3 separate regions of the Homo sapiens genome follow, and regions 2 and 3 are each reported to be linked to region 1. Evidence: microRNA targets listed by miRTarBase, many of them from high-throughput screens and not tested one by one. Region 1 holds a microRNA gene; each other region holds the end of a gene's coding sequence.

Region 1 (4,151 bases):
ATGTTTAGAAAAGGAGAGGAAGCAAGGTCCAGGAACATGAAATGAATTGAGATTTATGGCTTTGGTTTCCAAGTAGATCAAGAGTGTTATCCCTTGGGAAAAAGATGATACGTTATCTGTAGTCATGGATGGGCTTTGGTCTGTGAGAAGAGCAGAAGACAGATATGTAGCTTTGGGATGTGTAAGCTGGAGATAAAGACTTGGGTATCTGCAGCATCTGAGCAGATGTAAACATCATTCACGTGCCTGAGATTCCTTCAAAGATTGTGAGACAAGAGAAGAGAAAAAAAGCCATAAAGTTAAGAATGGGTCTCAGAAGGATACTGGCATTGGGAGTTCAAGCAGATGAAGAGCTTCTTAAAAATAAATAAATAAATAGGACATCACTGTAATAAAGAGAGAAATCCAAATGAGAGTAGGATCACAAAAGTGAATGGGGACTGGAGTTTAGGAAGAAGTGGTCAGCTGTGTCAGGCATCAAGGGGAGTTCGAGTAGGACAACTGGCAGAAAAGTTTGATTTGTATTTGGCAATATGGAGCTCACTGGTGATTTGGGGAAAAGCAGTGTCATTAGAATGATGTTATGCACAAGTGGGAGAGAGAAATGGTAGAAGATGCCAAATTACATATAGTTGAGGTGAAATGGGAAGTAAACAAATATAGACAGTGCTGCAGGCTACTATGTACTATTTCTAAAATCTTAGCTTTTAAAAAGAAGAAAAGAAGTGGGGTAAGTAACTTGAGGATAAAGCAAGTATAGAGAAGTTTTTCTCAAATTTCTTTTGTTTTCTATTTGAGAAGAGAGAAAACTGAACCTTGTTACATGTGAAATGGAGCCAGATGGTGAGAGAGGAGGGGGATATCACAGGGGAAGAGATGTCCCAAGCAAGGCAGGAGGCTCACGTGAGACAACTCAGGGCAGAATCCTACGCATTCATAGGCTATAAACAAGGAAGTGGAGGGAATAATCACATGGACTCAAGCTTCTCAATGAAAAACAGAAGTCAGTTCATCTGTTGAGAGTGGAATCGTGGAAAGGAGCAGTTGAGGAAAGAGGTAAACATTTAGGCTAAACATGAGGGAGTGGAGTAGAAGAAATGCTGGGTCAGAGTTGAGGGACTGAGGCACTTGGAGGCCCCTGAGTATGTGTATTAATGTGTCCATATGATGATGTGATTTTATTTTTCAGCAACACTGATATTGAAAGGACAGTTGCCTTGGAGATAAGAGAATGAGAAACTAGAATGGTAAGAAGTGATAGACAGAGTGGGATATTAGATATCGAATGTGGTAAAATATTTTAAGGTTATGATGAGGTCAAGAGCCGGGTCCCAGCAATGGGTTTCTGTAATGGGAGTTAAAGGCAAATGGGATTTAAAAGATCAAGGAAAAGAAAGGATAATTTATTTGACCATTAAAAAAAAATGAACATTGAAGCCATCCAGGTACTCCAAACATAGACACTTGAGAAAGCATTTTATTTTGCTATATAATTATTATCATTACAAATGGTAAACTTAAAACTGCTGTGATCAAATTTAATGACAGATGTCCTATATAAAAATGCAGAGGCAAACCACTTAAGAAAAACCATGATATGCATAGGCTTTTACTTGCAAAGTCAGATGAGTAAACATGAGGCAATTAATGGGCCATGACTGTAAGTCTAACCACGCAGTTCATGCACATAGAAAGTGGGTAAAGTTTTAAAGTGGAAATTGAATTGGGAAAATCAATCTACTATATGACTGTCATGAGTGTTCTGATAGTTATATAGTTATGTATATATTATTTTCTTCGTATTTAGCATGTTACATAGCAAGAGGCAGAATTATATGAGCAAATCCTCACCCAGAGAAGCAGAAAGCTAAAATTATCTGGTGTTTCTATCCCACTTTGACCAGAACATCTAACAAAAGTTGTAAAGAACACATATTTGTAAGTGTGTTATTGTCAATGGCATGGGTGCTGAGGTCCTACTTTATGTCTTTTTTTCACTCACACTACAACAGTAGGAAGGTGAGCTAACCTAGATGATGATACTGTACGTTTGATGGACAAAATAGTTTTGCCTTTTCTAAAACATGCTCTGTTTATAGCATACAAAAGATAGAGAAGCATTATTCTTGTTTAAACCAGAGTCTTTTTCATTGAAATCTCATCACATGATATAAATTGAATAAATAAACCAGAAGATGCTGACGAATTGGAAAACTTAAAGAACAATAGTACTATTTTGAACACATCTTTCAAAGATGGAATATCTGTTGATTGTGACAGCAAAAAGCGGGGCCACAGTTGCATTCATTGTTCAGTGAGCTTGTCCACACAGTTCAACCCACCGACAGCAATGAATGTTGATTGTGACCTTTTAAAAAATAATCTCTGCACAGGGAAGAGAAAGTCCTGGTGTGTCCACCTTTGGTTTCCTGTCTTCAGCGAATTCTGAGCACCATGGAGTAGATGATGGTTAGCCATAGGGTACAATCAACGGTCGATGGTTTTGATTTTAATTCCAAACTCACCGACAGCGTTGAATGTTCACTGAAGCAACCTCAAAACTCAGAATTCTACTCACTTTACAGTATCTGTAAGTATCTGAAGGGGATGGGAGACAGAAACAACAGTACCTTTAGTCATATATTTTATGCATTTTTATGCCATTTCAAAAGACTACAAAAGAAGACAAATAAGAAGCATGATTCTTCCAACAAAGAGTTTGGCAAACCTCCACATCACATTGTATGAGAGAAAAGGATCGGTTTCATTAAGCAAAAACATGGCCGATATTGGGCTAGTTCCAGAGATGGAATTATCTCACTGTTAAAGACAGGGACAATTTGTTATTCAAAGTACTTTGTGGTATAAAATCCAAACAATATCTTATAATTTAAATATTGTTACGCTTATAGTAAGCAAGCATTATGTATATAGCTTATACAGAAATTAAACAGAATTACCTTAGATTTCCTCAAATTGGCATTGATGATATCATTTATATTTACATTATATATTTACTATATTTTATTCTAAAATAAGGTTTTAAAATTAGTATAACTTCCTAAGAACAATCTTATTTAGAAAATGCTGAACAAATTATAAGTGAAGAAACCAGCTCAATACATTTTTCTTAGTTTATGGCACAAAGAGTTCATGAATACAGTGAAAGGTAAATACAATCTATGTATGCTACAAAACCGTTCATTTCCTATTATTTTAAATAACATCTAACATCTAACATCTCTTTATGGGTAGATGGGTGAGGGATTCTTTTCATAGTCTTATTTTCTAAGACTGTTTTATCATTAATGCTTATTTTAAAATTATTATGAACTCTACTGAATTTATTTTTAGAGCCATTTTCAATAATTTTCTACCATCAATTAAAACAAAAGTCACCTTGGATGTATCTAAACCAGAATAGAAAGTCATTATTTCACACATTTAAGTTGCATCTAATATGGTTATAGAGTAATTATCTGTAGGAGGGACAACCCACAATAATTTGGAATGCTACTTTGAAGGTGATAATGGTCTATTCAAGTCAAGGCAATTACTCTCGAAATGTTAGTGAAATATGTATCCCAAATTTTTACACATTCTTACATTTCAGTCACTTAGAATTATTTTAAAGCCAATAATTGTTTAACCTTTTAGACAAACTATTTACATGAAAACTTCAACAGATTTTTTTTGAGAGAAACAGGGACTAGAGATCAACTGGAAGTAAATTTTAAAGTGACAAATAGGCACAGAATATGAAACAGTGATGTATCTGAATTTTGCATTGTTTAATTCTTTTGAAAGAAGCAAATTTCTCCCACAGAATAAAACCCTAGAAGAATGCTTTATCAGTAGGCATTTCTGTGTTGCTGCTGGAAAGAATATTATCATGAGACTGAGGATTCATTTGTTTGCATTATCAATTACGACTGAAAGCATATCACTCCTGTTCTGTTGCCTGCCTATTGTGGTATTAGTGTCAGGTCAATATACAACTGTTTTCAATCATGCCTATTCATCTCTTGCTACATCTGCTAACGTTTGTATAATAGGGATGTTGTGATAAAAGACTCCATGCTCTGTATTTTCCCTTAACACAAAATGCATTTGGCCTACCAGTAAGCAAAGCTCTAGGTCAGTTACAAATA
Region 2 (4,000 bases), not on the chromosome of region 1:
CAAGGTGCAGCCGCATAATTTATTTTCCCATTTCTCTTGTAAGACAGAGAGCTCTGAAACCAGGGTTAAATATAAGACGATGGCAGAGCTCCACATCCAATGAGTTGTGTCCCTGGCCACCTTCAGGCGAGCTCACAGAAGCAGCAATGTCCAGTGCCCAGGCTCTGCAGTACAAGCTGTACGTGGAGACTGGGACCCATGCTAGTGGCCATGGTAGTCTCTGATGGAGCAGTCCTGCAGTGTGGTCTGTGAGCGTTATTTCCAGATGTGTAGACTCCAATTCTCTGGCTCTTTTGGAAATTCTGTGAACTGCATAATATCTTTGAATAAATCTATTTTTTCATTAAACCAGTTAGATTGGCTTCTGTAGTCTGGAATTAGGAGCGCTGAGACAGACCTCTAAACTAGGAGAAGCTTGGAGTCAGGTCATCTCACTCCTGCTGTTCCTGGTCTCTGTCACATAGAGTCGCTTCAGAGGGCTGACTTTCACCCTTCAAGGCTTGACCCTGGTCTACTTTTCTGTGAAGCTGCCAGATGCTAGGTCACTGTGCAGACTGGCTTGGCCCTTTTGGGGGCCCCCTTCCTAGATTGGCTGAGGATGCCCTATATGCTGGGTTTCCCACCTTGTAGCACTGGAGTACTTTTCTTTTTTTTTTTTTTTTTTTTAAGACGAGGTCTTGATCTGTCACCCAGGCTGGAGTGCAGTGCTGCAATCACAGCTCACTGCATCCTCAACCTCCTGGGCTCAAATGATCCTCCCACCTCAGCCTTCCAAGTAGCAGGGGCTGCAGATGTGCACCACCACTCCCAGCTTTTTTTGTGTGTGATAGAGATGGGGTCTTGCTATGTTGCCCAGGCTGGTCTCAAACTTCTGACCTCAAATGATCCACCAACTTTGGTCTCCCAAAGTGCTGAGATTACAGGTATGATCCACTGCGCCCAGCCACTTTTCTCTTTTTATCTCATACACAGACATATTCTAAGGTGCTGCGTTGCTCCCGGATTGCTGAGTCAGGACAAGGTGGTTTTCAAATATGTCCATAAATTCTTTGATACACCTCCTCCCTGCCGCCATCAAGAGATGGGTTATTTCCTTTCCTTTGAGCCTGGGCAGGTCTTTGTGATGCTAAGGGACTTCCAAAGCTGGGTTAGAGAAGGCCATGCAGGTTCTGCAGTTTCTCTTGGGAGGCTCATCGGCTGCTATGTAGGAAGTCTGGTGCCCCCGGCCCTGCCATGTTAAGAGCCCATGGGGAGAGTGCAGAGAGACATATCTGAGAAGCCCCAGCTGTCTAAGTCCGCCCAGCCCAGGCACCAAACACATGAGTGAATAAGCCTTCGTGATAACTCTGGTCCAATCCTGTCTGACGGCAACAGCATGAGAGACTGGAAGGGGAACTTCCCAGCAATAAATAACCAAATACTTTCCTGAATTTAATGGATGAAAAATCTGGGCAGCATGGGAGGGAGGAGTGGTGAGTTATTGTTTAATAGATATGAAGTTTCAATTTGGGGAGATGAAAATTTTCTGCAGATGGATGGTGATAATGATTGTACAACAATGGGCATGTATTTAATGTCACTCAACTTTACACTTACAAATAGTTAAAATTGTTACTTTTATGTTATACATATTTTACCACAATTTTTAAAAGAAAATCTGGGCAGTAACTGATTTTGGAATATATGTAAAAATGGGTATTTATATTATTAAATCAGTAGGGATCTATCCAAGACTGGCCCTAAATAAAATAATAAAGGGAATATTTATGTGAAACATATATGTCTGTCTTCAGGATAAAGATAGCTGTGCTTAAAAAAAAAAAAAAGAGTAGCTAATGTTTATTCACTGAGCAGCCTCTATGAGGCAAGTGGTAGGGATGTAGCCAGAAGGAAGACAAATGAGGTCTCTCTTGTCATGTGTCTTATGTTGTAGTTGGAGGAGACAGTGTTGAGAAGAGGTAGACAACCCAATCAAAACAGAATACACTGGGGGAAGAAAAGTACTATGCTGAGATTAAAGTAGGTGGTGTGACAGAGGGAGACTGGGCACCTACAATAGCCTTGGGGTCGGGTGGGGGTGCTATTTTCTGTAGGTTAAGAAAGTGCAACTGTTGAGTTTGGGTTGACCACTTTTCTTTTGAAATGTTACTAGATATTCACATGGCAATGGTATATACTAGTGTTCAGTGGCATATACTAATCTGAGGTTCTAGGAAAGGTCAGAGCTGAAGATCCAGATTTGTGAGTCACCGGACTGTAGGCAGGATTTAAAACGTAGTCTAGATGAGATTACCAGGGAAAGGCAAAGTGAGAGAAGCAACCAGAAGGAAGAGGCTGAGAACAGCAGTGAGGGAGGAGTGTGATGCCCTGAGGGGCTAATGCTGCTGCGATGAGAACAGAAGTGACTGTGAGGTCTGACACCATGGAGGTAGGTGGTTGTATTGAATTATCTGTGGATAGGTTTAGAGAGAGGGTCAAGGAATGCTTGTGAAATGGGGGAGCAAAGGCTAATTTTTCAAGAAATGTTAATACTTAAAGAAGCAGGGGCCTGGTGTGGTGGCTCACGCATGTTATCCCAGCACTTTGGGAGGCCAAGGTGGGAGGATCCCTTGAGCCTAGGAGTTCAAGACCAGCCTGGGCATCAAAGCAAGATGCCTCTCTACAAAAATTTAAAATTAGCTAGGCATGGTAGTGTGCACCTGTAATCCCAGCTACTCGGGAGACTGGGGTGGCATGATTGCTTGAGCCCAGGAGTTCAAGGCTGCAGTGAGCTATGATGGCACTTCTGCAGTCCATCCAGGGCAACAGAGGGAGACTTTGCCTCAAAAAAAGAAAGAGAGAAAGAGAAGAAAGAAAAGAGAAAAAGAAAGAAAGAGAGAGAAAGAGAGAAAGAAAGAAGGAAAGAGAGAAAAGATGAGAAAGAAATAAAGAGGAAGCAGGGAAATGGGACAAGAGCTGTGAAGTCAGTTATTACCCTGTGACAGGTACTATGCCAAACATTTATGTAAGTATGTAGTTTCATTTTCACAGAATTCCAGTTTCCATTTTATAGGTGGAAAAGGAGACACAAAGAAGACAATAAATTGTCCAGGGCATAGTAGGTGATAGAGCTGGGATTTGAACCCAACCTTATGTAAGTCCAACATTATTCAATTAGTTGTAACTTCAGTCAATAAATCACTCCCGCATTGAGATAATTTAATAAAATTTTCTGATAAATAAAACTTGTATGCTTCACCAAAATATTTATTTGAGAATTATACAACAAAATTCCAATATGGCATAAACTCTGTGGAGACCTTTAAAAATATCCAGTGAGATTTGCTTCATTTTTCCCCCCTAGAGAATTATTAATTATACCGTTTTATTTCCATTAAATGGAACTCTTGAGAGAAAAAGAATAGAATGAAGAGAGAGATCACAATTTTATACATTGTACTGAGAAATAAAAGGCCTTCCTACATGGTAGCTAATCCAGTCAAAATAATTGGCCACTTTGGTGTAAACACCTGGGAACTCTGGTTTTCCACAGTTTTCCCCCCAACTCACAACACCCCAGACATAAGTCACATTGTTGGCATCCATACAGACTAAGGGGCCTCCAGAGTCCCCTTTACAGGCATCGATGGAACCATCATATGTACCTAAGAAAGAAATGTGAAAGAGAAAATCACACATTTCCTTCCATTTTTCAAGGCTGCCATGCCTCCTCCATGGCATTTAACAACTTTGGCTTTTTTACAGTTTCCTGACAGCAATAGCATGGGCTCTCCTTAGAGTCCCTGGCTGGGCTTGCAGAGTTGCAGAGATGCAGCTTGGAAAATTCTTTACGAGTCTTCTATTTATTCCCCCAATTCAGCATGTTCTTCCTGTGTTCTCTACTTTATACGACTGAGTACTGAGATGAGATTGCAACCTGAAAGTTGCATCAAATGCTGAGTAGGAAAATGATGGGACTGCCTAGTGCTTACTGAGTGCTAAATATTTATTAGTCATTCAT
Region 3 (4,000 bases), not on the chromosome of region 1:
TGGAGCAGTGTGGAGTAAGCTCAGCCTGGGCCCGGCGGGGACACAGCTAGGCCTCGGGCGCGGGGGTCGTTCAGCTCGAAGGAGCAAGGACTTTATAAATGAGCTTTCCTCTTCTGCACACTTAGGGAACCCTCCTCCTGTGGGGTAACAGTCTGGCCGGGGGCCCAGTCGTGGGGCGGTGTCTGCAGTCCGGGTCCAGATCCGCGGCACGCAGAGCCCGGGAGGCCCGAGAGGAACCAGCGGGCAGAGGACTTGGGAAAGGCGCACCGACTTCCCTGCAGGCCTGACTCCGGTCTCCATGGCGAAAGCAGGCAGGTGGCACAGCCGCGGCTCTCCATGAGGGAGCAGCTTAGATTATATGCTGTTGGATTAAAATGTAATAAACATAGGAGTAAAAAAAAAAAAAAAAACTCAGCGTTTCAAGGGTCTGAGGACTCATCCAGTTCCAAAGAGAAAGAACACTCTCCATGCCACTGTAAGCCTAGCGTCTGCTTGAACACCTCTGAGGACGGGGAACTCATTACCTTACAAAGCTGTGCCTTGCCCCTTTTCAGTGTTATACTTTGAAAACAGATTTTTAAAAAAATGATCGCTTCATGTTACCGTATTTTTATTAAAATAAGAGAGAGGCCAATACGGCAATAGAAGTTGTGCCAGTATTTTTTGTTTGGTTTTTAATCTACGAACTTTCTGAACTGTTCAGAAGTCGGGGTTCGCGGGGAATGCGTGGTCTCGCGCCATCAGCGATGACCCTGGGGCGCAGCTCGGGCCCAGGCAACGAGAACTCGGGAGTCTCCGCGGTGAGACCCCAGCTCTCTCCTTCCAGGGTTCTGAAAATCCCGAGGGGCAGCCCCCAGACCGCTTCCTGGCAGGGCAGAGGCCCAGCCCAGAGGCCCCGCTTCCGCCTGGGAACGCCAACGGCCCAGCTGCCTGGGGAAACAGAAAACGCCTAAAAAGTCGTCTTCGGTAACAGATCACCAGTCTCTGAGTTTCTTTTACAGGGAGAAGAAAAAAAATTTTTAAGCCATGAAAGTTTGGAAAAACAGCAATTCAACGCGTAGATCACTCGCTCAAAGACCCCAAACACTTCCTGATGAGCGGAATCCAGAGGCGCGGTCAGCACAGGCGAAGCTGATCCCTCCCCCAATCCTGCTTAGGAAGTTGTACAAAGTCTTTTGTTTTGGGGGGGAAACAACAAAAGGTAAACAAAAATGACACTTTGAAAAGGAGAGTCTCTTTGTCTCAGTGGAGTAAAAAGTTCCTGTCCCCAGGGGAAAGCGCCTCGGTCCAGCACGGGTGGCAGGGCCAGTGAGCACCCAGCCGGAGGGAGACCTGTTGAACTTCGCAAAATTTAAAAAAATGTAGTCACTGGAATAGCACCGTAGTTTTGAACACTTCCTCCTGGTAACAAAATGTGTACTTCTTTTGGTTATTCTGTGCTCACATGTGACATATCCAAACTGTCTTATTTAAAAAAAAATAATAATCACCTCTCGCTACAAAGGCACCTGGCACCTGCTCCCAGGCGGGGCGAAGGCCATGAGCACCTGAGTACTGGGGAGGATGCCCAGGCAGTTCCTCTGGACTCAGACATGCTTAGAAAACTCATCATTCCACCTGGGACCTTCAGTATTTTATAATAAAGAGATTTTGTTTTATTTAATGTAACCTTCAAGAATTTCAACACACAAAAATGCGGGGGTGGGGGTGTTCACAATTTTGATAAGCACAGTTGTAAATAGAAACATTCATTCATTTCTCATAAGATTATAAATATTTGATACTGGAACTGTAAAATGCACATGTTTTATAAACTAAAACAACAAAGAAAACAAAAAACAGAAACCAACTTTGCTTCCTGCTAAAAAGGCATGTCATTTCATTGAGTTTCCTAAGCAGCAGATGGTTATTCAGACTTTTAAATTACAACTTTTGTTTTTATACTTTCCTTTTTAAAAAGGTTTACACTATTATGTACAACGTAAAACTATTACTGCAATGAAATAAAGAGGTTTAAGGCAAAGAGCGAAGTTCACCCTCAGTCCTCAGGGAGACCAGCGGGACTCCCAGCTCAGCCGTGTGCACACCCCTGGGTCAGCCGTGGGCACACCCCCTGGGCTGTCCCAGCCACAGATGGACAGTTGGATTGGTCTTTCCCCATACACTAAACAGAAGACAGTGTGGCGTTATATATAGATAATGTGTTTGTTTATATACATATATAGGTACTTGGTGGGAAATATATTGAATATATTTAATTTACACTGTACCACACCTTCAAAAATAAAATGTATATTTTAAAAAACAAGAAAAGACAAAAAGTGATGATAAGAAATGATTATTTACACACTTTCTTCCTTCTTCTAGATCCTGGAGGATTCTGAGTTCTTTTGAAAGACAAGGTAGCCACATGTTTCAGAACTGTGGACTCAAACACGCCTGGTGTGTGTGTGTGTGTGTGTGTGTTCACATGCATGCAGACATATGTGTAAACACACATATTTATCTTGGAAGAATGTTCTCTATAGCAGAAGCAGCCACTCCAAGAAAAGAAAAAAATAAAGGAAAAAAAGAAAAAAATAGGGAAGAAAAGAAAAAGGAAAGGAAGATAGATGATGCCATCTCCCTCTACAGAGCCTTCTGCCCGCCCAGAAACAGTGAGCCATGGCCTCATTTCTGGGACCCTGGCTGGCACCCATGATGGCTGGTGGAGTCACAGGAAATTCCTGGGGCCAAGCCAAAAGGAGGGTCGCCCCACCGCTCTTGGGCTTTAGGCCACACACCCCAGGCCTTTAGCCCCAGAACCTCGAAGCGCTTCTGCATGGAGGCAGTGCCCAGGGCAGGAGGGTTAGGCCTGCGGCAGGACTGCGGTGGGACTGGGGACAGCGACACAGACCACAGACGCAGACGATGTATGCACACGGTTGGGCCCTTGGTGAGGAGGAGGAGGAAAGAGAAGGAGGAGGAGGAAGGAAGGAGGAGGAGGAGAAGAAAAAGAAGAAGAAAGGAGGAGCAGGAGGAAGGAGGAAGGAGGAAGAGGAGGAAAAAGGAGAAGGAGGAGGGAGTTAGGTGCAGGAGGGTGAGGAGAGGGAGCCGGGTGAGGCTGCGGGCCTGGGCGGCTGCTGGTGAGCATGGAGCCGACTTCCCAGAGCAGGCCTGGGGTACGCTGGGCTGCTTCCCAGGGCCAAATCCCAGAACTGGCCCAAGGACCCTGGAAGTCCCCTCTCTCCCACCAGGTCCCCTAAGCTCCCCAAGGCCTTGAGGTGGCTGGTCCAGGCTTGAGGTGTGGGCCCCTCCTGCTGTCCTCACCAAGCCAACACAAACAAAGTGGCAGAAGTCATAGACCAAATAGGAGCTATTTATTCGGTTCACAGTTGTGTGAAATGCAGCAATAAAAAATCTTTGGACTTCAGCAAGTTGTTTTAATTTTTTCTTCTTTTGGAATAATAAAAAAGTGTCCAATGTCATATAATGGAGCTTAGGGGATTAAAAAAAGGTGAAACCCTAAGCAGCCCCCTTCGCAAAAAAGAAAAAAACCCATAAAATTAGCATAATCTCATAAACACAAAAAACTCAAAAAAATATTTTATAGTCAGATATTTTGGATTTTATACCACCTGTAAATGATATATACATAGAATATTTCAGAACCTTAGCTAATACACAATATTTTCACTATTAATGCTGGTATAATCTTTATACACTGGCCCTTTATGATTTTAAATTATTGCATTGTTTAGCGCGGACTGAGACCTGGCCTCCATGCCCCCCGCCCTACTCGCTGTCCGACTTGCCCTCCTTGGCTGTGGTGGAGTGGTTGTACAAGCCCTGTGCCATGAGGTGCACGGCCAGCGTGTTCTTGTTGCCCGTGGCCTTCTTGATCTTGGCGCGCTTGTTCTGGAACCAAATCTTGATCTGTGACTCGTTGAGGCTCAGCTCCTGCGCCAGGCTCTGGCGCCGCTGCTCCGTCAGGTACCTGTTGGTCTGGAACTCGGCCTTG

What was found. Region 1 holds the annotated microRNA hsa-miR-181a-5p (AACAUUCAACGCUGUCGGUGAGU, at 2,520-2,542, opposite strand). A microRNA usually pairs through its seed, bases 2 to 8, with sites in the 3' UTR of a target mRNA and lowers its output. Matches are read on the target gene's strand: a 7mer-m8 pairs with bases 2 to 8, a 7mer-A1 pairs with bases 2 to 7 and ends in A, and an 8mer does both.
Region 2: miRTarBase lists CFI as a target of hsa-miR-181a-5p. The part of its 3' UTR that is shown has no 7-base or 8-base seed match.
Region 3: miRTarBase lists EN2 as a target of hsa-miR-181a-5p. Seed matches in the 3' UTR shown: 7mer-m8 at 1,745-1,751.

The regions. Positions count from the first base shown.
Region 1 is chr1:198,856,589-198,860,739 of GRCh38, forward strand. It overlaps MIR181A1 (microRNA 181a-1), which reads right to left and starts at 2,565; the gene lies at 2,456-2,565. All of the region lies in intron 2 of MIR181A1HG (MIR181A1 host gene), which reads right to left. MIR181B1 (microRNA 181b-1) reads right to left here and starts at 2,394; the gene lies at 2,285-2,394.
Region 2 is chr4:109,737,467-109,741,466 of GRCh38, forward strand. It overlaps CFI (complement factor I), which reads right to left. Exons shown (of 13, transcript NM_000204.5): 13 at 3,229-3,644. The coding sequence ends at 3,427. Among named protein-coding and RNA genes, the nearest start is that of PLA2G12A, 9.4 kb to the left of the region's middle.
Region 3 is chr7:155,462,462-155,466,461 of GRCh38, reverse strand. EN2 (engrailed homeobox 2) reads right to left here. Exons shown (of 2, transcript NM_001427.4): 2 at 1,631-4,000. The coding sequence ends at 3,775. Among named protein-coding and RNA genes, the nearest start is that of EN2, 6.3 kb to the right of the region's middle.